Homo sapiens: one gene and its partners. The protein of the gene in region 3 interacts with the protein of the main gene of each other region in a pairwise test. Each region holds a gene or a part of one and is shown on either strand. Other genes may lie near its edges.

Region 1 (7,940 bases), on a different chromosome or scaffold from region 3:
TGAGCATGCACATCCGGGGGGGCTCCAGCCTCCGTCTGTAGTGTCCAAAACCAGAATGAGAATGTCCAGTCTGCTTCAGAAAACAATTTTATAAACACCTTCTGAAGCTGTGATGGAAGACCCTGGTTTTTGTATAAGGAGGTATTAGACACTAGCTAGTTATGACTGCCCCTCCCTGCCTCTTATCCTCTCCACACTGCATCGGTGTCCCTCCACTCCAGGAGCCCAGATACATACGGGTGCAGTAGTGGTGATAACGCCCCCATTTGTGTTCACAAACACTTACGTAGAGTCCTAGGTATCAAGCATTATTTTAAGTTATTTACACATAATAGAAGTAAATACTTCCAACCACCTATATGAGTTAGGAAATAATATCCGATTTATGGAAGAAGCCCAGAACTAGAAATGCTGAAGCCAGAATGCAAACCTAGGTTGCTTGGTTACAGAACCCACACCATTGATCTCTACAGCCTACCATCTCTTTCATCAGGTTTCAGCAACCCCTGTCTTCCAGAAATCAGCTGTCGTTCTTCAGAATCAATCTGGAATTCAGCCCATTTTAGCCTGCCCACCCTCTGCCCTTGGCCAATTTTCTGTAAGTAGTAAAAATGCCCTTGGCCTGGCTGCCCAGGGCCCAGGGGTCAGGCCCCAGGCAGGACCCCAGAGCCTGTGGACTGGGGAGGGGGCTGGTACCGGAGAAGGCTGGATGTGGCTGCAACGAGGGCATTCAGGCTGATCCCACTGTCCGCAAGAGCCAAGCTCAGCACCAGTAGGTGGCAGGGAGTCCGCAGCTCCGGGGTCTTGCAGAAAGAGAAGATGGTCAGGGTATTGAGGCTGAGACCGGAGAGAGCTGAAAGGAAGGGTGGGGGCTGGCATTGGGGCTGCTGAGGCCCAGCTGGGGTCAGAACAGTGTGTGTGGGGTGGATGGAACATCAGCAACCTCCTGGACAGACAAGGAAGACAATCAATATAGGGTAGCATGCTTCATGCTATAACAGTCATAATCACTGACAGCTGCCAGGCACTTAGCACACACCAGGCACCAGGATAAGCACTTTATATGAGTCATCTCATTCAATCTTTACTTGGATACTCTCTTCTCCATTTATAGCTGGGAAACTGAGGCTCAGAGACACTAGCTAACTTGCCCTAAGTACACAGCTAGTAAGCGGTGGAGCTGGAACTTGAATTCAGGCCTTTTGGATTTCAAAATGCCTTCTCCAAGGACTGTAGAGCAAAGTCAGAGAGGCTCCAAGGAGAAGAGTCGATGTTAGAGCTGGGAGCTGCCCAGGACGCCAGGCATGGAAGTGAACATGAAGGGGGCGTACTCTGGCAACAGAGAGACCCGACCTTGAATTTTGGCTTGGTTGCCTCGCTTGCTGCTCCTTAAGCTCTCTGAACCTCAGCTTCCCCTATCTAAAGTGAGGAACAGGAAAAAATCCTGCCTTCAAAACTATGAGAAGCACTTACCTGCAGGACAGTGCATGGAAGAGCATTCCAGGAGGGAATAGCATGTGCAAAGACATGCTATGGTACAATGAGATACCACCTTACTCCTATAAGAATGACCATCATTAAAAAGTCAAAAAACAATAGATCAATGCCATGGATGTGGTAAAAAGGGAATGCTTATGCACTGCTGGTGGGAATATGTAAATTAATACAACCTCTATGGAAAACAGTATAGAGATTCCTTAAATAACTAAAAGTAGATCTGCCATTTAATCCAGCCAAAAACACACATGCACATCTATGCTTACCGAGGCACAATTCACAATTGCAAAGATACGAAATCAATGTAAGTGCCCACTGACCAATGAATGGATAAAGAAAATGTAGTATATATACATCATGGAATAATAGCTGTAAAAAGGAATGAAATAATGTCTTATTACAGCAATTTGGATGGAGCTGGAGGCCATTATTGTAAGTGAAGTAACTCAGGAATGGAAAACCAAATGCTGTTTGTTCTCAGTTACAAGTGGGAGCTAAACCGTGAGTACGCAAAGGCATTCAGAGGACACAATGGACTCTGGAGACTCAGAAGGGGAAGGGTGGGAGAGGGAGTGGGATTAAAAAAACCTACAAATGAGGCACAATGTACGCTACTTGGGTGATGAGTGCACTAAAGTCCTAGCATTTGCCACGATGTAATTCATCTATGTAAACAAAAATCACTTGTATCCCCAAAGCTATTGAAATTTAAAACATATTTTAAATAAAATAAAAACCAAAGCATTGTGTATATAATGACATTTCTAGTCATTAAACATGAAATAAAAATGTAAATTTAAACCCCTTCCAAAAAATAAAGTGGTAAAATTTTATGGCATGTTTGAGGACCTGGAAGGATGCTAGATTGTAGGGTTCTCAGGAAAGGGAGACACGGGCTGGGGCCACCAGACAGTCGTGTCCAGAGCCTTCAGGACCAATCTAATGACTGTCACTTCCTCTCCATTGTCAGTTCTCATTAGGTGAGAAAACGTGCTGATGATTTCTCTGGGTCTGCTTTGAACCAAAGCTGCGTTCTCCATCAATTTAGCTTGGGCTGGCCCAGATTCAGGATTGACACTGTCTCTAGCTCTGGCCTCAGCGAGCATCTTAGGGATTCTAGGTTGAGGTAGGTACCTCGCAGACCCAGGTTGCCTCCAGAGGTGAAGTGCTTGGGCTCATAGGAGTAGACACAGTGAAAATAGTGGTGGGGCTGGAGAGGATGGGAGTGAATGAACTTAAATACCCTAGAGTCTATTTAGGCTAGCACTTTATACCCATTATCCCATTTAATCTTTACAACCACCCATTCGGAATGTCAAGGCATTGAGGGCAGAGAGCTGAAGGGACTTGGTTCCAGCCACACAAGAGCAGGAGGCAGAGCTGTCTGTCCCCAGAGCCTTTTGGGGGACTGATCTTATGTGGGATTCTCAGCAGGATTTCCAAGGAGTGGATTAAATTTTCTCCCGGCTGGAGGGACATGAAAAGTCCTAAAGCCTGGCTCTTGATCATCTCCTGGGCAGATGTCCCCTTTCAAAGTCCCTCCCTCCCTGACCCTTGCCTGGCTTCCTCTCTGCTCCCAGCGGGCAGTGTGCTGCACCTCACAGGTTCAATTGTCAGAACACCCCCCGAGTCCGGGCACAGAGGGGAAGGCAGCCAATGGGACCGGACACCCAGCTGGGTTTGGGGACCTCTCCTCTCCTTGCCAGCTCCACACTGGTGGCCTGGGTCCTCAGAACCCACTGGGCCCCCGCTGCACCCCAGGTTCTGCCTGGCTCACCTTCCACCAGTAGCACCATCCCCACAGCCAGCACCTCGAGCTCCCCGAAGCCAGTGGGCAGGGCACTGGTCTCTGCCATCCTCACTCTCCCTCACTGCCAGTGGCCCAGCTGTCTCTGGCTTCCCACAGCCAGGCCCTCCCTTTTAAAGGGCCATCCCATGTGCGTGGAGGCACATGCAGGTTATTATGTTGGACCTTGGGCTGTTTCTGGATGCCTCCCCGCTGCAAATGGTCCTCTTGGCCCAAGCAGAAGGAACCCATTCACGAGTTGGACAATGCAGCCTTTGTGAAGCCAGAATGGAGCCCTGTCTCATTCATTTCAGCCCCATTGCACAGGATTAAGGTCGGGGAATCCAAATGGTGTGTGGCTGAGAGCCTAATTGGAAAAGAGTTGCATAACCAGGGGAGGGGAGCAGGAGGAGGGATTTGAGCCGCAGCTGTTCCCAACAAGCCTGGTGCCTGTGTGTGTGTCCTCAGGCTCACATGAGTATACTCCAAAGCGCTGGGGAAAGGATGAGGCTTGGGAAGTCGCCTGCTGTCAGAGGAAGAACCCCATCTGGGACCAGAAAATGGGGTTGGGGTTCTGGTTCTGAATCTGCCACTAACTAGTTATGCGCCTTGGAGTGGGACCACTGGACTCTTCCGTTTACTTTTCTGCAATGTCAATGTCTTTTGTCTGTGGCCTTTATATAAGTCCTGGTTAGATATCACGAATATAAACCTCAGGGCTGCATTTCCTGTCTCCCATAGAGCACCTGAGCATAAAAAATGTCCTAGGACACTGTCTTAGAACAGAGGGGCTGCCTGCCGTCTTGTCAGTCTCCGACCCCGAACCCGCCCAGCCTTGCCGGCCCCACTAAGAGCTTTGGCTGCTACAAATGACTTCTTGATACACTGGCTCTTTATGCACTGTTATGCTCTGGCTCATGATAAAATTTACACCAGGAAATACTGATCTAGGACAACTTAGTTCATTTTCAGATAAAGAAACCAAGCTCCAGAGCACTATCAGCAACATAGCTAATATTGAGTGAGGTCAGGCCCTGTGCTAGGGGATCTTCTGATGAGTCCTACAACAACTCCATGAGTTAGATACCATTATCCTTTCCATTTTAGATGAGGAAACTGTGGCTAAAAACAGTTAAGAATCTGCCTGAGGCCATGCAGTAATTTATGGATGGAGCTGGAACAAAAGCCGATCTCCTATTCCTCAGGCTCAGGCATTTTTCAATGGCATCTTCTGACTCACCTGGTAGAGCAACCCACTCTGTTCCAGGAATGCCCACTTCCCAGGCCTTTCCTCTCATGAGTCCTCACTTACATCCAAGCCTAATCCCTCTGCAGGGCTGAGCTTATGGCTGCGCCCTCCAGAGCGTTCCCTGTTCTTTCTCAATTTCTTTTTTGTTTTTTTGTTTGTTTTTGAGATGGAGTCTCGCTCTGTCGCCCAGGCTGGAGTGCAATGGCGCAATCTCGGCTCACGCAACCTCTACCTCCCCAGTTCAAGCTATTCTCCTGCCTCAGCCTCCCGAGTAGCTGGGATTACAGGCATGTGCCACCATGCTCGGCTAATTTTGTATTTTTATTAGAGACAGGGTTTCTCCATGTTGGTCAGGCTGGTCTTGAACTCCCGACCTCAGGTGATCTGCTGGCCTTGGACTCCCAAAATGCTGGGATAACAGTCATGAGCCACCCTGCCTGGCCTTCTGTCTCAATTTCTACCTTATGGTGTTGGTTAATACATATGTCAGTCCTTTTTTCATGCCTTCGAGATCACAAAAGCCTTCATGAGAGGAGATAAAGCAGGGCAAGGCCAAGATTAAAGGGTAAAGTTCATTTGGGCAAAAGACACAAGGAGGAAGAAGCAGAGATGTGGGAACAGGCAAGCTGACGGCTGGGTTTGGGGAGGTGGAAGTATAGCTGGGAAGCACTGAGAAAATCCTACTGGCTGCATTGGAAGGAAGGAAAGAATGAGAAGCCAGTATTGTTGAAACAGACCTGGCTCCGAGCTAGGCATTTTATGTGTGCACTGGGGCCCCAGATATCTTTGCAGGTCATACCTCACTGGTCTAGGCCTGCCTGGAGCCACAGGCATGAAGGACTGGGGAACCTTCTAGAAAAGCCAAACAACATAGGTAGGGCATGCTGGACCAGAGAACAATGCCTCAGGGTCAAATGTGAAGAATGAATGAATGAGTCGACTGAGTGTCTACTGCTGGGAATCATCCCTGGTCAGTCCCCACTGGCATCTTGAGTAGATATGGTGGGGCGAGATAGGGTTAGGAGAGAATAAGTAAAAATTGAAATTAGTCTGGGTGCAGTGGCTCAGGCCTGTAATCCCAGCACTTTGGGAGACTGAGGTAGGAGGATCGCTTGAGGCCAGGAGTTTGAGACCATCCTGGGCAACATGGCAAGACCCTGACTGCAAAAAATAATTTTTTAAAAATAGCCAAACATGGTGGTGGTTGCCTGCAGTTCCAGCTACTTGCGAGGCTGAGGCAGGAGGATGGCTTGAGCTCAGGAGTTCGGGGCTACAGTGAGCTATGATTACACCATTGCACTCCACTCTGAGTGACAGAGCAACCCTGTCCCTATAAAGCAAAACAAAGCTTTATGGATGGAGAATTTCCAAAGGCCCTTATTAGAGGTTGGGGTCCTGTCTCCAAAAAAACCTGAAAGTGCCTTCTCTAAGACCTCTCTGAGCTACCTCTCTGGGGCCCTCCTTGGAGTAGGGCACCTTGAGGAGAGGGGTGCCCTTGTCCCTTATGTGGAGACATCTCCACCTTTGGCATTCGTAGCAATGCCCAGAAGGGCTCAGCTGAAATAGTAGTGTGTTGAGTCCATATCCATGGGGCACTCAAGGCAGGCAGCTGTTTGCCTGGCAGCCTGGGACAGTTTGTGGGCTCATGAGAGACACCTCTGATGTCTCCCCAAAATATCTGAATCTGTCCAGTTCTTCTGTAAGTAGGGTCTTATAAGTACCAGTGAAACTGGGCACTTACAACTTGTGAGAGAGCTTCTGTTCCCACAGGCTGTCAAGGCCTTGGAATTTGAGTTTGATTTTCACAAACACCCTGCATGAAGTAACTTTATTTCTCTTTGTCAGATAAGGACACAGAGGCCAAGAGATAATGTGACTCACCCAAGGTCACAGCCCCTTAATGGAGCAGCTGGGATTTGACCCCAGGAAGCCTGGGTCCAGAGCTTAGCCTCCTTCCAATGCCTTTAGCACCATCAGGAAGAGTTGCTTCATTTCACTGCTTTTTTGCTATGAGACAGTGTCACAGGAAAGAATTTCCAAAGGCCCTTACTGAGGCGGGGGTTCTTTCTCCATCTTCCCTGGCACTCCAGTGGGGTCTGTGTTGTCCGTGGCCTTGTTGGGATGGGATGCTTTGCAGATGACAGTCCCATGGCTGCTCGCCTCTGGAAAGCTGCCTACTTGTCTTGCTTTGCTGTGCCCTGCCCTGGCCTCTCTGGGCCTGTGGATATTGCTATGGAAGGGGGTCCCCCGCCCCTACCCTCAGGACTGAGTGATTCAGAAAGCAATAAGCCTCTGAGTGCTGCGGCTGGGACTCCCCTCCCTAATCCCCAGTCTGTCCATGTTTATCCGATGGCCTCAGGAGGGGGTGTAAGGGGCTGGCGAGCAAGTGGGCAGCTGCTGAGCTTGCTGGGCCGGTGGGACGGAGCGGTCCAGGGACAGGCCCCTGCCTGGGCCAGAGAGGAGCCAGGAGCCATGAGGGTGGCATTAGGCATGCTCTGGCTCTTGGCCCTTGCGTGGCCCCCCCAGGCCCGGGGCTTCTGCCCCTCTCAATGCAGCTGCAGCCTCCATATCATGGGTGATGGCAGCAAGGCCAGGTATGGTACCGGGTGCGTGGGACGGGCAGCCCAGCCTCCATTGCTTTGCCAGCTAGGCTGGGTTGGGAGGAGTTGGAGCTGGGGCCCTGGGTGAGGTCTTCATCTCCCTTGGCCCTTGAGGACCAGGGATCCTATGGGGTGGACTGTGCTGCATTGTTTTCCAGCAGGCAAGGGGGTGACTCTATTCGAGAGGTACCAGGTATCTATACACATGGGCCCGAGGGTGAGGCACAAGTATGTCAGTTCTAAGAAGTCCTTCCTAAGTCCTCCTCCAGGCTCCTGGTGAAGAGCCCTCCTTAAAGGTCCAGGAAATCTCCTCCCTTACTGCTTTTTCTTCTCTTTTATTTTTTCTATTCCCTCTTCTTTTCTATATTTCCCCAGCCCCTTCTTTCCCAGGCCACTTGCACTCTCTTGCCTGACCTCTCTACAATATTCAATCATATCCCAGGCATTTCCTACAACCCCACCCATGATGGGACCACTTGCCTCTCATTCTCTTCCTCCTCTCCATCTTCGCTGGCCAGATCCCAGGAGCCTCAGCCTCAATACCTTTTTATGAGTGCTCCAAAAGCCAGGAGTGCCCATCCCATGACAAGCATGCTTCCTTCCATCCCCAGCCTTTTCCTTGACTTTCCCCACCCTCTGTCTGATCCCTCAGAGCACCTCCATTCTCTCCTCCTCTCCTTTCATGGGACATTCCCATGCCACTGTGGCTTGTGGACCCTTGCTCTTCCACTACTGCTCATTTTCTTCTTTTCTTTAGCAACGTTTAAATCATCTTTTCTCCAACTTCTTTAGCTTATCCATTAATGAC
Region 2 (8,063 bases), on a different chromosome or scaffold from region 3:
GGGACTCAGAGTTTAAGCAGTAAGTCGAGGTTTTAAAGAAATGTTAAGTCTGGGCTGGGTGCGGTGGCTCACGCCTGTAATCCCAGCACTTTGGGAGGCCGAGGCGGGCAGATCACGAGGTCAGGAGATCAAGACCATCCTGGCTAACACGGTGAAACTCCGTCTTTACTAAAACTACAAAAAATTAGCCGGGCTTGGTGGCGCGTGCCTGTAGTCCCAGCTACTCAGGAGGCTGAGGCAGGAGAATGGTGTGAACCCAGGAGGCGGAGCTTGCAGTGAGCCGAGATCGCGCCTCTGCACTCCAGCCTGGGTGACAGAGAGAGACTCCGTCTCAAAAAAAAAAAAAAAAAAATGTTAAGTCTGATCTCATTCACTTGTTTGTATAAAGACAAATACCAAACATGGCAGACCACATGCTAAAAAAAATCTTTCTCAGGAACAATTTGGGCTGTGAATGGATCACATAAGGCAAAAACCAGCCAAGTTAGGAGTTCATGACTGCCTTGGCAGGCTCCTCTGGCTGCTCGTGTTTCATTACCACCATCCTATAATTATGCCTCAACCACTGTCCTTTATGCACACTGGCCATGCCCATCACTGCCATCTCTCCTGGGCCACATGACGATACTGGCCATGAACATGAGATGCGACAGGCTGAAGGTTAGTGCTCATATTGTTGTGCCTTATCTTTACTTTTTTCATTAGTTGCAGAGGTTCTTTCCATTATAATCCAACTGTAAAAATCACATCTATTTTAAGTTTTTCCAGAAACCTACAGAAAATAAGATACATGTCATAATTCTATTTCTAAATTTAAAAAAGGCAGTGTCCTGTCTGGCCATTATAGGAAATCTGAAATTATTATAAGAAATAAGAATTCTGGCCATTATTAGAAATCAATATCCTGTCTGGCCAAATAAGAAATCTGAACTCTGTGATTCCAAGCTGACACTTTTGTGGGATTTTTTTTCTTTTTTTTTTTTGAGACAGAATCTTGTTCTGTCGCCCAGGCTGGAGGGCAGTGGAGCAATCTCGGCTCACTGCAAACTCCACCTCCCGGGTTCAAGCGATTCTCCTGCCTCAGCTTCCCAAGTAGCTGGAACTACTGGTGTGCACCACCACGCCCAGCTAAGTTTTGTGTTTTTTAGTAGAGACGGGGTTTCGCTATATGTTGGCCAGGCTGGTCTCGAACTCCTGACCTCAGGTGATCTGTCCACCTTGTGCCCGAAAAGTGCTGGGATTACAGGCGTGAGCCACCACGCCTGGCTGAGACTTTTTTTAAGCCACAGAAATCACACAATTCAAAATTGCTATTTGACCCAATACAAGAAATATAAATTAGTTAACAATAAAAAGCACTTGTTAATCTTGCCCAAGGCTGTCAGGACATCTCTGGAATGATATCTGGACCAATGTTGCATTTATAATATGATTTTCATCTTTTCCTCAAGAAACATGAGTTAAGAAAACTGCAGTAGCAAGACTAAGGTAGACGTACACCGCTTAGTTTAAAAGTGTTCATTTCAGCCAATCAATTGGTTATTTGTGGACAATTCTTGAAAACTAGTATAATATATATTATATATACATATATAATATTTATTACATATATTATATATGTATATATAATATATATAATTTTTTTAACTGATAGATTACTGTGGAGTCAGAGATATAGCTTAAAGTTCTACTTTTTGCTGAAGAATAAGAGTTGGAAGTCAACCTCTGATCCAGCCATAATATTGTGCCAGTCTTTAGGATTTTGGTTTAAACAGCTGCATTGTATACTTCAGAGGATTTTTTTTTTAATTTCTCCATTAATCTTAGCATTTGGCACAATTTACTAAAACAGAACATGTGTGTATCCCTGACCCAGTAATTTCACTCCTAGGTATATATATACCCAACAGAAACACCTACTAGAATGTTCACAGCAGCACTGTCCATGAAAGCCCCAAACCGGAAACTATCCAAATACCATTAGCAACATAACTGACACATTTGGTACATACATACAATGGGATGCTATATAGCAATGAAAAAAATAAGCAAATTAGATACAACAGTAAGAGAAATCTCGCAAATATAACCTTGAGCACAAGAAGCCCCTGGTGAGAGAATATCCACTACATGATTCCATTTGTAAAAATTCAAAAATAGGCAAAGCTGATTGATCTGTGTATAAGCAGTCAGGATATGGAGGAAGAATACTAAGTAACTAGAGACTCTCCTTGAGTACTGATAATTCTGTTTCTTTCTTTTTTTCCCTTTTTTAAATAATAAGATTTTGAATCAGGCAGGCTTCTGAGCCATAGTAGGCTCAGAGACTCCAATTTTCTGTTTCTTAATTTGGTGCAGATTACATGGGTATGTCTCATCAAGCTATACACTTATGGTTTGTACACTTCTCAGTTTATCTGTTATACTTTACTAGTTTTTTTTAAAATGCACCCTCAGCCACTGTACCCCCCAAAAGTGACTGTTTCATGTATGTGTATTGCCACTTGACAATACGGCAAACTTAAAACAATTTAAGTAACTTCATTAAGGTTGAAAGTGTTTCACGTATGCTGGAAACAAGAGCAAAAAGATATTAAATGAAAAAATTGGGGGTTGTTTTTGAATTTTATAACAGAACAAACATATCAATCTACAAGGTCAGAAATCCGAAGTAAAAAATTAGAAAGGAGGCGGCTTCTGTATCAATAGTGGATCTTGCTCTGCAGAAGGACAAAGGGAGGGACAGGACCAGACAAAAGAAGGGAGAATAAAGACCCAAGGCGTGAGAATTTCGAGTCAGCCCATGGCGGATTTGAAATCAACAAAGGGGCAGCTTAGAAATGGACACTGGAGTGACACAAAGATGGTGTGATTGAGTACCGGGCACTACTAACATGTGGGAGACACACATTCACAGGGAGTCCAGGCAGCAACAGACCTCAACCCCTTTGCCAAACCAATGAAAGTGGACAGATGTTAGGTAGTAGGGAGTGACACGTGCACAATTCAGAATGCAGAAGTTCTCCTTTCTTTCCAAAAGAATCTAGTCATTCACAAAAACTCAATCTTACTTGGGCCAGATGATTTTTTTTTTGAGATGGAGTCTGGCTCTGTCACCCAGGCTGGAGTGCAGTGCCGCGATCTGGGCTCACTGCAGCCTCTGCCTCCTGGGTTCAAGCGATTCTTCTACCTCAGCCTCCTGAGTAGCTGGGACTACAGGCACCTGCCACCACGCCCAGCTAAATTTTTGTATTTTTAGTAGAGACGGGGTTTCACCATATTGACCAGGCTGGTCTCGAACTCCTGACTTTATGACCCACCCGCCTCAGGCTCCCAAAGTGCTGGGATTTCAGGCATGAGCCACCGCGCCCAGCATGGGCCAGATGATTTCTAATTTAAAAGGGAGGCCAGGCGCAGTGGCTCACGCCTGTGATCCCAGCACTTTGGGAAGCTGAGGCGGGCGGATCACCTGAGGCCAAGAGTTCCAGACCAGCCTGGCCAACATGGTGAAACCCCGTCTCTACTAAAAATACAAAAATTAGCTGGGTGTGGTGGTGCATGCCTGTAATTCCAGCTACTCGGGAAGCTGAGGCAGGAGAATTGCTTGAACCGGGAGGCAGAGGTTGCAGTGAGCAGAGATCGCACCACTGAACTCCAGCATGGGCGACAGAGTAAGACTCCATCTCAAAAAGAAAGGAAAAGAAAAAGAAAAAGAAAAAGAAAAAAAATTTAAATGGGGAGCCAGAGGTCTCAGTAGCTGGAAAATCCTGTAAAATATCACCTAAAACCATTCAGTCATTCTTTCAATATTATCTGTTGAATGGTTACTCTGAGCAATATTCTGGGCTAGAAGCCACCTGGACGAGAAAAGAGGTCCAAATTCTATTTTAAACAAGGTAAGGTGCAGCATTTTGTAATGGGATAGCCTATTGCTAAATTATTTAGTTAACTGTGAATCTCACACCCAACTCATAAGGTTCTCAGCTTGAGGTACTGTTTAAAGGCATGGATCCTTTTATGGTTAGGGTTTCTTTCTTTTTTTGTTGTTGTGGTTTTTTGTTTTTTTGAAACAGTCTTACTCTGTCACCCAGGCTACAGTGCAATGGTGTGATCTTGGCTCACTGCAACCTCCACCTTCCCAGTTCAAGTGATTCTTGTGCTTCAGCCTCCTGAGTAGCTGGGGCTACAGGTATATGCCACCATGCCTGGCTAATTTTTGTATTTTTAGTAGAGACAGGGTTTCGCCATATTGACCAGGCTGGTCTCGAACTCCTGACCTCAAGTGATCTTCCTGCCTCGACCTCCCAAAATGCTGGGATTACAGGTGTGAGCTACTGTGCCTGGCCTAGTTAGTTCTTTGTGTCAACTTTGCTAGGCTATAGTACCATTATCCAATAAAAGATTCATCTAAATGTTGCTGTGAAGGTATTTTGTAGATGTGGTTAACATCTATAATCAGTTGACTTTATTTTTTTTTTAATTTTTGAGAGAGTCTTGCTCTGTTGCTCAGGCTGAAGTGCAGTGGTGTAATCACAGCTCACTGCAGCCTTGACCTCCAAGGCCCAAGCAATCCTCTGACATCACCCTCTCAAGTAGCTGGGACCACAGGCATGTGCCACCCCACCTGGCTAATTTTTTTTAACTTTTGTAGAGATGGAGTTTCCCTATGTTTCCCAGGCTGGGTGGTTGACTTTAAGGAAAGGAGATTTTTCCTTGATAATGTGGGTGGGCCTCATATGATTAGTTAAAAGGCCTTAAGAGAAAAACTGAGTTTTCCCTGAGAAAGAAGAAATTCTAAGTAAAGAGTGCACCATGAGCTCCTGCCTAGTTTCCGGTCTGCCAGCCTTCCCTACAGATATGGGACTTGCCAGCCTCTCCAATTGCATAAACCAATCCTATTGGTTTTGTTTTTCTGGAGAACTGATTTTCTGTTTTTCTGGAGAACTCCAGTTATCCTGGAGAACTGATACAGATGGTAATCAAACCCCTTGAGTTCAAGGCCTGGCTCTGCCATGTCCCCATCTGGGTGTCCTTTTTACTTTTGTTGCCTCATTTGTAAAATGAGGATAATAACAGTAACCTAATGCATAGTAATCAGAACCACCCCTGGCACAGAGTGCTTTGAAAGTGTTTGTGAAATAAATAACTGTGGTTCCAAGTTGCACAAAATTCTGTATTTCTTAGCTGGAAAACCTGAGTTTTCTTTATTCCCAATAATTTGCCATCAACCAAACATGATGACTCTTCCCCACACCAAGAATTACATAGCCTTGGGACAACAGCTCCTCACCAGCCACGCCAGCCTAACCCCACTCAAAGGAATGATGCAGCAAAGCTGAGGTCACAGCACTTCTGGAACACTCTTAATTCTCCAAGTTCTCAGCTGCTAAAAACAGCTGAGCTTAAAGAGGCTGCCAGGAAACAGACTCCACAGAGAGCTATTCCTACTATTTGCAAGGGTGGGAGTTTTAGAAAGGAGTCCTAATCATTCCTTGTGTTCCCACTGTTAATCCCTACAGCAACTTGCCATGGCCCCTTGGGATGAAAGATTAAATGGGGAATCAAAGTGTTGTTTTTGTGGACACACATTTTAGAGGGAGAATATGATGCTGCTGCTGATGGTGATGATAACTTTTACTGAGCACTTACAAGATGCCAGATGCTGCTCTCAGTGCTAACCATTAACACATGTAAGCCTCAGAACAACCCCAGATGTAGATACTGTTAAGTTGGTGCAGAAGTCACGGCAGTTTTTGTCATTAAAAGTAATGGCAAAAACAGCAATTACTTCTGCACCAACCTAATACAACCATCCTCATTGCACAGATAAACAGAAAGTGGCCAAGGTGAAATCTGAACCCAGGCTTTCTGGCTCTCCCTCCTGTACACGCTACCGCTGAGCCTGGATTGTGACGAGGGAGGAGGGAGGCGAGGGAACAAGTACAGAACAGGGCTGTGATTGATGGGAGTGCTTGGCAAGCTCGGGTTCAATCAATGGTTAAATCAGCTTATTTTAAATGAAACAAGTTTCAAAGACTGAAGTAGAACAAATCATACACCATGTTCCTCCCTGAATTTCTTTTGTTCAAGTGTATAATTTGTGCCCACTTTTATACATAAATACCAAAGCTCACAAAAGATTCATGTTATGGTATTTCAACCTTTCATCTTCACATAAAAAAAAGCAAGGCAAAGCGATTTTGAAATTATTTCTCATTTATGCACCAGCAGTGCAATGAAATCAAACACCTGCTTATTGGAAAAATGATAAAACACATTTATTCTTATTTGCTCCCATATTACACCAAGTTTTCCCTACAGGACTTCATGTTGACAAAGATATCTTGTTCTACAGGATTCCTGTGAATTAAGTCTTAGAAGACTTTTCTGGAATATGTTTTTATACCTCAGAAAACAAAAAAGATACACAAGATCAGATTCTATCAGAAACTGGTAAATTTTCACACCAGGAAGATAGACTGGGTCTCAGATACTCTTGTCCAACTTCTCTGGCTCTCAATATTTTTCTATGCCCCAAGAAAATGATCTGAACACACAATTCACATTTTTTTTTTTGAGATAGAGTCTCACTCTGTTGCCCAGGCTGGAGTGCAGTGGCACGATCTCAGCTCACTGCAACCTCGGCCTCCCAGGTTCAAGTGATTCTCCACCTCAGCCTCCTCCCAAGTAGCTGGGACTACAGGTGTGCGCCACCACGTCAGGCTAATTTTTTTGTATTTTTAGTAGAGATGGAGTTTCACCATGTTGGCCAGGCTGGTCTCGAACTCCTGACCTCAAGTGATCCTCCTGTCTCAGCCTCCCAAAGTGTTGGGATTACAGGCGTGATCCACTGTGCCTGGCCACAATTTACTTTTACCCCAGAGACCTGCCTATAGTCATGCTGTCCTTTGGCTTATAGTCCCGTGGAGCTAATGCAGGATCATACAGAATCCTGGGTCAGAGAAGCTATTAAGGGGAAATTCTCAGATAGCTATGGCAGGAGAAGAGACGTGGAAGTGCCACAAATGAAGTTTACGCCAAGTCCTGAGACCTGATTTTGGCCAACTGTGTAAACTTGCCTTGCTGTGGAACTCTTTCCAGAGATAGAAGCATTAAGAATAATGCAACAACCCTGCTAATGTTTGCACCTAGAGAGGTTACGCTGACAACAGCCAGGCCTTCACGTCAGGCTGGTCATACCGGCATTCCTTGTCTATGGATTCCCTGCCATGAGGAACAGACTGCAATGGATGTTCACAGAGTGCTTTAAGAAGATTACATCCTTTTAAAAATCCATAAAATTATTACAAAAAAGAAGCCAACAAAACACTCCTTCCTGAAATTGTTCCCTTTGGGTAATAATATGAAAACATGTTTCCCATTGGAGCTCTCTTACAAGAAAAAACCTTCACTGTCAGATTTCTAGGTTTCTAATATTGAGATTCCTAGTATTTATGTACTCTGAATCCATGTTTGTGTGTATGCATAAATACACACATGCATATATAATTTAGTAAAATATAGTATGTGTATATATATATGTGTGTATATACATATTAATATATACATATATATAATTCAGTTAAAATATAGTTAAAAACAACCAATGAGCAATGTTCCAGCTAGTCCTTCCAGATCAGTTTTGTAAATTCTGTGAGGCACCTCCTCAAAACACCATCCTTTAAAACCAGCAAGACATAGCCTACTGCTGACTCCCTATGGCCAGAAAGGACACTCAGACAAGAGGCCTTCACTTTGACAGCTATCATCTGTCCTGGGCAAAAGCCAACAGCCACAGCACAGTCCTTCACCTTACACACTAATCTTGTTAAGAAAGCAAATCCTGAGATTTCAAGGCTGGGTTAAGAGAACCAACAGGTTCTCAGTTAACTTAGTGGCAAATGTAAGTGGCATCAATGAGTTCTACAATGCCAAGTATCGCCCAGTCTGGGAACAAAAACATTCCTGCCTTTTTTTTTAATGAATGGCAATTTAAAATGATAACTTTATGCTAAAGATTCACCTTTAACTTGTCATCTAACCAGTTATCAAAGCAACAGTGC
Region 3 (8,063 bases):
GACCTTACCCCTTCCACACCCAGCGAACACGCGCACACCTTACACACCCCTTGCCCACCCACCAAACACCCGCACCTTACATACCCCTTGCACACCCACTGAACACCCACACACCTCCTTATACCTCCTGCACACCCACCGAACACCCACAGACCTTACACACCCCTTGCACACCCACCGAACACCCGCACACCTTACCCCTGCACACCCACCGAACACCCGCACACGTCACACACCCCCTGCACACCCACCAAACACCCACACATCTTACCCTCCACACACCCACGCACCTTTTTACATCCTCCACACACCCACCTCATACCTGCACACCTCCTTACACACCCTCTACACACCCACCACACACACCTGCTTACACAGCCTCCGCACCCACTGAACACCCGCACACCTCCTTACACACCCTCCACCCACCCACCACACACCTGCACACCTCTTTATCCTCCACCCACCCTCCACCCACCCGAACACCTCCTTACACACCCTCCACATACCCTCCAAACACCCGCACACCTTGCACACCCTCCACACACCCACCTCTCACCCACACACCTCCTTACACACCCTCCACACCCACCAAATACCTGCACACCTCCTTACACATCCTCCACACACCCACCGAACACCCACTGAACACTGCACCTCCTTACCCTCCACACACCCCCCACAGCCACACACCACCTTACACACTCTCCACACACTCTACCCTCTACACACCCGCCCACCTTACACTCCACACACCCGCCCACCTCCTTACCCTCCACACACCTGCCCACCTCCTTACACACCCTCCACACACCTGCACACCTCCTTACATCTTCCACACACCCACCTCATACCTGCACACCTCCTTACACACCCACCTCACACCCGCATACCTCCGTACACACCCACCTCTCACCCGCACAGCTCCTTACACACCCTCCATGCACACACCTCCTTACACACCCACCTCATACCTGCACACCACCTTACACACCCTCCACACACCCACCAATCACCCACTGAACACTGCACCTCCTTACCCCTCCACACACCCACCACACACCCACACACCTTACCCTCCACACACCCGCACACCTCCTTGTAAACCCACCTTTTGCTGCTGCCCTGCTCTCTGGAAGTCGCTGGTCTGGCCGGGTCAGGTGTGGCTGGGGACAGGCGAGGTGTGCAGGCAGACCCTGCAGGCTTCTCCTCACCAGCTTAGTAACCTGGGGAGGCTGTAGTCTATGCAGAGGCACCTCACCTCTGACGTGAAGGTCACAGCCAGGGTCAGGCAGGTGGTCAGGTCAGGACACTCATCCCACTGAGGTTGGTGGCCCGCTGTGGCCGGGCCCTCTGTGGAGAGGTCCTGCGAACGGACCACGCTGAGGCTTTGGGCATTCGTGCTGCTGTGATGAGGAGTGGGGCGCACTGAGTCCCTGCCGCCTTCTGCCTGTGAACACCAGGCCGGGCTCCTCCTCAGGCCTCTTCAGGCACGGGGGGCGGGCCAGGTAGGTGCGAGGTCAGCCCAGCAGGGGCTTTCCTGTTAGTGGGGCCTGGGGTGTGGAGAGCAGTGCCAAGGGAACCGTCTGCGTGTGGATCTTCCTCAATGCCTCTGGAGTTCTGGGCCAAGTCCCCTGGCCCCGGCCCATTCAGGGAATGTCAGCTCATTCTGGTATCACGCCCTTCCACCCCCGTCCATGGGGACCCCCAGAGACACCCAGTGTCTGGCCACACTGCAGCCCTCACAGCCCTGTCTTCCAGCCTGGGCTAGCCTCCTTTGGGGGCCCTGCCAGTCCCCGGACAGCCCCCCTTCACCCACCAACGCTGCCTTCTGGGGCAAGGGCACTAGTCCATCCCACAGGCCCGGACTGAGTCCTGGGGACACGGGCGGCATGCACGTCCTTGGAAGGGGCTGAGGACGGAGGGCTTAGCAAGGGTATTTTTAGCGTTGGTGCTGACACTCTCTGGGAAATGAAGCCTGGGTTTCTCTGGAAGGAGAAGCCAGCCTTCCCCTACTGTCCCCTACTGTCCTCTCCAAAGCTGGCTGTTCTCCAGACTACCTCATCCAAGCAGGGAAGAGGCCAGGCTGGCTTCACAGTTACAGCTAGTGTCCTTTGTCAGGGACAGTGGTGACCCCAGGCTGGGGGTTAAGGGGCCCAGGCATTGTTAGCCCTGAGAGGGGGACCCGAGGCTTAGGCTGGAGTGGGGTGGCCCTGGGCAGCCCCAAACTGTGCTCCAGCTTCCTGACCAGGCCCTGGCACCCTCTGGACTGGAGGACACCGGCCACCCTGGCTGAGCTCTGCCCTGGAAGGACCTTTCCTGAGCTGGGGGCACACTGCCGTAGCCCTGGGCCCATCCCCACTTGCCAGGTCATTCTCACAGCCAGCCCTGCCTGGGTGGGGGACATACCTCCAGCCTGTGGCATTGACCAGCTTTGCCAATGGGCTACCTGGGAAAGCCCGGATTGGGCCAGGCACCGTTCCCATCTCTCAGGAGTGCTGCTGCTAGCCTAGGCCTACTCTGTGTGTCATGAGGAGACAGACTGTCCCTCCTCTGGCCTGGGGCAGTGGCCTCTCCTCAAGGTTTGCCTCTCTGCCTGCCCCTCCCCAGGGACCCAGGCCCAAGCCCCCAGCCCACAAGTACCACAGGCCTAGGGGGCAGAGGGGACATTGACTGCCTTTCCTTTGGTGCTGGCGTCTGCTGCTGCCTAAGGCAAGGGGGTGGCCGAGGGACCCTTCTGGGCCCAGCCCTCTTGGACTCGCTCTGCCCATGGGTCATAGCTCAGCCTCCCAGGGCAGCTCAGCCTCTTCCCGCAGAGCTAACATCTCCCACCTTCACAGGTCCCTTCCTGCTGTCTGGGACCCTGGAGTGAGCCTGGCCCCTTTCCACGTAGCTGCCTGCATGTGTGGGCAGATGCGGGTCTTCTCCGAGGCTCCTCTTCCGGGCCCGCAGGGCCTCCATTCTCAGGGCGGCCCGCCCCACCCTGGTTTCTCAGGGGCCAGGCTGCACCCGGCTCCGGGGCAGAGGGCAGTGGCACGGTCACCTCTCTCTTCCCCTGCTGGGGACCTGGCTCCGTGCCACCCGAGCGCTGTGCCAGGCCTGAAGTGATTTGAACTGAGGCAAATGCTGGGTGCTGTGGGGGCCAGAGAGGAGGAAGCCGCACTGCGACCTCTTGGGGCTTGAGATCTAACTAGATTCACAGGACAGAAGGCAGGAGAAGCTCCGAATGTCACAAGGGCTGGAGGCCCGGCGACAAGGGGTGCTGAGGAACTCAGGGAAGGTGGAAAGACTTGGAGCCCCAGATCCCTGCTCAGGCCTCTGTCTGCCTCTGGATAGGGGCACCTCCATGTCTAGGCAGCACTGAACTGATGGCCCAGGATAGGGGGGAAGCTAGAGAGGACCCAGCAGCCCTGGGCCACACGCCTGCTGGCAGTTGACTTAGCCGGCCTTCTGCTGCTCCTGAGTCGCGGCCCTCAGCCCTCCCCTTGGTGGACTGGAAAAAGGCCACCTGCACCCTTGGGGTCACTGCATGCTCATCACTGGCCAGCTGGCTGCACTGAGCTGCAGGGGGCCTCTGTGGGTGGACGGGAGAGACGGGCACCCCTGGGCTGTGCTGCCCTTGGCCTGAGCGCCGTTCCCTTGAGGACAGCCCTCTGGCTGAAGCCACTTGGCCCCATGTGCAAATGCATGCCGACCCCACAGGTGCAGCGGGCCTTTGTGCAGTGCCCTGGGTGGGGGTGCACAGGGCAAAGGCTCGGCACCTCCTCACCTGGGGTCCTCTGGGTCCCTACATCCCTCTTGGTTCCCACTCCCACGCCCCTTCCAGCCACAGGCAGCACCATGGCCCTGTCACGGCCCGCCAGGTCCCCATATGGAAGGGAGAGGCCCTTTGTGTGTGTGCGTTTGTGTGTGCACATATGTACGTGTGCATGCCTGTGTGTATTGGGAGGCGCTGGCGTAGGGCCTGGGCATGTGGCTCACACAGGCTTGGGGAGGTGGACATGGAACAGTAGTTAGTTATGTTGCTGGTTTTATGGACGCCTGGGAGGAAGGACATTGTCTGAGCCTCCGTCTGTATCAGGTGGGGCTTGCCATCCCACTCCCAGACCCCCCCGAGTGCCGTGGTGACCCCTCTTGCCCGCCCACAGGGAAGAAGGCCGTGCTGGGTTCCAGTCCTTTCCTGTCCGAGGCCAATGCAGAGCGGATCGTGCGCACGCTCTGCAAGGTGCGTGGTGCGGCACTCAAGCTGGGCCAGATGCTGAGCATCCAGGGTGAGTGGGCGCGGGGGCTGCTGCCCCGGGACTGCGTGGGCTGCTGGGGGGGTCAACTTCCAGGGCCGGGAGCAGTGGCCCCACCAAAGCTCAGTGGGCAAGATGTGAGCAGGCTGGGGAGAGATCTTAGAAGATAATAGGCCTGGTCTCCAGACGGGTGGCTCTGGGTCCAAAGAAACACATGGAATAAAGAGCAGAGAGGAAAAATTGCTCTCTACAGGTGGTCAGAACACAGGTCATTTCAACATTTTACTATGTTTTATTTTCCAAATTTCTTTTGTAATTATGAAAAACTCTGCATGTTGAGTGTAAAAAGCCCACCTTCTCAGGTCACTGGGCGGAGGCTGGGGCTCCCGGGAAGCTGAGTGGCCGAGGGCGTGTGTGCGAGGGCTCCTGTCTTTCTGGCCTCACCCGTGCTCCTGGTGGGGAGGGTGTGGTGGCCAGGGCATCCCAGGAGTGTGCCCGCCCAGGTCCTGGGCGCACACTTTAATCCCCAGGTTCGCCCTGTGTCATTCTCCTGCCTTCCAGATGATGCCTTTATCAACCCCCACCTGGCTAAGATCTTCGAGCGGGTGCGGCAGAGCGCGGACTTCATGCCACTGAAGCAGATGATGGTGAGGAGCCAGGGGCTCTGCCCACTCTCTGTGGCCTCGGCCCCCACTGGGTGGAGGGGACAGACTTGGGGCTTCTCCCGGTGGCCCAGGCAGGGCATGCTCAGAGCCCCTCCCTGGCCCTGCCCTTCAGAAAACTCTCAACAACGACCTGGGCCCCAACTGGCGGGACAAGTTGGAATACTTCGAGGAGCGGCCCTTCGCCGCCGCATCCATTGGGCAGGTGCACTTGGCCCGAATGAAGGGCGGCCGCGAGGTGGCCATGAAGATCCAGGTAGGCGGCCTGATGCGCAGTGCCTGTCCCTATGGGGGCTGCAAGGGGCAGAGCTGGGGCCTGGCTCATGGAGGCCTCTACACCCCACGTCCCGCAGGGCACCCTCTCTCCTGGCAGGGCCATATGTGGTGTCTTCTGGCCCCAGTGCCTGGACGGCACCAGAAGCTTGGGAAGTATTTGCTAAATGAGTGACTTTGGGGGCACAGAGGGGCCCCCAGCAAGCTTGATTTGGGGTGGGCAAGGACAGGGGACAAGTGATTGCTTTTTGGGGCCAGAGCTGGTGGGAGGGTGGCCGTGAGCTGTTCCCAGGGGTGAGGTGAGGCAGGAGTAGGTGGACAACGAGGCTGTGATGGGGTCCAGGTCACGGCAGCATGGCTGGGTCTTAGCTCTGGTTCTCCAGGGTGTGGGCTGGGGCCAGGACACAGCTGGGAAGCCAGTTGGGGGTTGGGGGAGTGCCCCAGGCAGGGCCCACCCGTCTCCCTGGGCTAACTCCCCTGCCTCACCCATACCCCCACAGTACCCTGGCGTGGCCCAGAGCATCAACAGTGATGTCAACAACCTCATGGCCGTGTTGAACATGAGCAACATGCTTCCAGAAGGTCTGAGGCTAGGTGGTTGGGTCAAGGGCAGGAGTGGGTGGCAGGCATCTGTGTTGGGTTCTGGGGACCAGAGGGGGTCCTCCCTGCAGAGCCCCCTTCCTCGCTGATGCCCTCCTCCCTGGCCCAGGCCTGTTCCCCGAGCACCTGATCGACGTGCTGAGGCGGGAGCTGGCCCTGGAGTGTGACTACCAGCGAGAGGCCGCCTGTGCCCGCAAGTTCAGGTGTGGCCCCCGGCCGGGCCCCTTGCGTGTTTGCACCAGGGAGGCAGAAGGGACCATGTTCAGCAGCTGGTGAAGGCCCCTCCAGCTCTGAGGGGCAGAGGGCTGGGGTTGCAGCCTGGGCCGAGGCCATATCCTGCCTGGGGTGAAGGAGGGCCCTCTGCCTGGTTGGGGGGTGTGTGTGGGGGGGGGGACGGTGTGGAGGGCCTGTGGCTAGGGCGTGACCTCCCTCCCCTACCCAGGGACCTGCTGAAGGGCCACCCCTTCTTCTATGTGCCTGAGATTGTGGATGAGCTCTGCAGCCCACATGTGCTGACCACAGAGCTGGTGTCTGGCTTCCCCCTGGACCAGGCCGAAGGGCTCAGCCAGGAGATTCGGAACGAGGTTTGTCTGTGCCAGCAGACAGGTGGGGCCAGGGTGGCCCTGCTGTGTGGCTGTTTGGTGACCTAATAGTGTGAGCTGGGGACTTGGAGCCCTGAGGTGCTCCCTGGGGGTGAGGGGCAGTGAAGTAGCACCAGTGGGACTTAGGGGGACACAGGGGAGCTGCTGCCTTCCCTGGCCCAAGTAACACTGGGAATCAAACAGTCCCTAGGGTAGGGTGGGTAAAACAGGAGGCAGGGGCTTCTCTGGCCCCAGTCTCCCAGGGCACCAGGCAGTGTGGTGCTGCCTGACACAGACCCTTCGCGCTGTCCACAGATCTGCTACAACATCCTGGTTCTGTGCCTGAGGGAGCTGTTCGAGTTCCACTTCATGCAAACAGACCCCAACTGGTCCAACTTCTTCTATGACCCCCAGCAGCACAAGGTGAGCCCCAGGGTGGGGGCACCCGCAGCCAGGCCTGAGAGCTTCTCCGAATGGGGCACGTGAGGCCCTGGACTGCCCCTTGTCCTGGGAAAGTCAGCAGAGAGCTCAGGGCTCTGGGAGTGGGGATCCTCACTGCCCTCTGTTGCACCCCCTTCCCGGCCCCACACACCCGCACCATGGAGCACCAGGGCCAAACTTCTCCTGGTGTCTCTGTCCCCAGGTGGCTCTTTTGGATTTTGGGGCAACGCGGGAATATGACAGATCCTTCACCGACCTCTACATTCAGGTAACTGGAGAGGGGCCCTGGCCTTGGTCCATGTTTTTCTGAGGCTGGGACAGGATGCTGGGGGACTCGGGGTAGGGAGAATGACTGGGTTCCTGCCCTTGTGTCCCCATCTGCGCTGCCTGCCCCTCAGGTCTGGTGACAGCAGGCAGTTAGGCTGACAGCTGCCAGGCGTGGTGTCACAGCACTGGCCGGGGGCCCTGTGCAGGGAGAGGATGAGGGTGGGGTGGGCTCGGGTGTGGCACTTGGCTCCCTGGGATGTCGGGAGCTGAGCTTTTCATGCTGCCCACGGTCCCCTCCTGTGCCTCTCCCCAGATCATCAGGGCTGCTGCCGACAGGGACAGGGAGACTGTGCGGGCGAAATCCATAGAGATGAAGTTCCTCACCGGCTACGAGGTCAAGGTGAGCAGGGTTGCGGGGGATCCCCTGGGCCTGCTGACCCAGGGCCCGGCTCCCTGTGTAAGAATGGATGAAAGCACAGGGGGCAGCTGCCCTCAAGGGGCCCCCAGAGCCCGGGCCTCCTTGGGCACGGTCTGAAAGCTGGGGCCCACCCCGGCCCATGCTGCCCTGCTGAGCGTGAGATTTTCCGAGTGGGCCAGTGAGTTGGGGACTTGTCGTGAAGCTCTTGTTTCTGCCTCTCACTCTTGCCCACTTAGGGCTTGGGGTTGGGCCTCGATTGAGCCAACGTGCAGAGCAAGTGGGAAGGGAAGCCCCAGCCCTCCCCTCATCGAGCCTCCCTGGGGGGAGTTGGAAGAAACCTTAGAAGCCTTTTAAATAAAGGGGAACGGTCTGTGCTGGTGCCGCCTGAAGCCACCCACAAAGTGGCATTTTCCGCTTGCTGCTTGACAGTGGGGAAGGAGTTAAAGAAATCCAGGTCAAGCCTTGGGTCTGCCGTCTCATAGGAGTGTCATTTGAGGCTTGTCAGTATCTCTGAGCCCCCCTTATCTCAGCTGTAAGCGCTCAGCGGGCAGCAGCTCTCTCCCGCCTCTTCCTTATGGCCACT

Evidence for each region. The genes of interacting proteins can lie anywhere in the genome.
Region 1: the proteins of COQ8A (region 3) and RGR interact in binary tests that used the Homo sapiens proteins (3 or more experiments, as listed by UniProt).
Region 2: the proteins of COQ8A (region 3) and DPYSL5 interact in binary tests that used the Homo sapiens proteins (3 or more experiments, as listed by UniProt).

What each region holds. Positions count from the first base shown.
Region 1 is NC_000010.11:84,240,504-84,248,443, reverse strand, and holds the start of RGR (RPE-retinal G protein-coupled receptor), read right to left. Parts: upstream 3,392-7,940; 5' UTR 3,354-3,391; coding exon 3,275-3,353; intron 854-3,274; coding exon 697-853; intron 1-696. Other genes in the region: LRIT1 (leucine-rich repeat, immunoglobulin-like domain and transmembrane domain-containing protein 1 precursor), read left to right, coding at 7,005-7,126. UniProt on the Homo sapiens protein: Receptor for all-trans- and 11-cis-retinal. Binds preferentially to the former and may catalyze the isomerization of the chromophore by a retinochrome-like mechanism.
Region 2 is NC_000002.12:26,850,460-26,858,522, reverse strand, and holds part of DPYSL5 (dihydropyrimidinase-related protein 5), read right to left. Parts: intron 1-8,063. UniProt on the Homo sapiens protein: Involved in the negative regulation of dendrite outgrowth.
Region 3 is NC_000001.11:226,977,879-226,985,941, forward strand, and holds part of COQ8A (atypical kinase COQ8A, mitochondrial), read left to right. Parts: intron 1-4,148; coding exon 4,149-4,271; intron 4,272-4,799; coding exon 4,800-4,885; intron 4,886-5,015; coding exon 5,016-5,156; intron 5,157-5,673; coding exon 5,674-5,755; intron 5,756-5,882; coding exon 5,883-5,976; intron 5,977-6,215; coding exon 6,216-6,357; intron 6,358-6,669; coding exon 6,670-6,777; intron 6,778-6,997; coding exon 6,998-7,063; intron 7,064-7,375; coding exon 7,376-7,462; intron 7,463-8,063. UniProt on the Homo sapiens protein: Atypical kinase involved in the biosynthesis of coenzyme Q, also named ubiquinone, an essential lipid-soluble electron transporter for aerobic cellular respiration.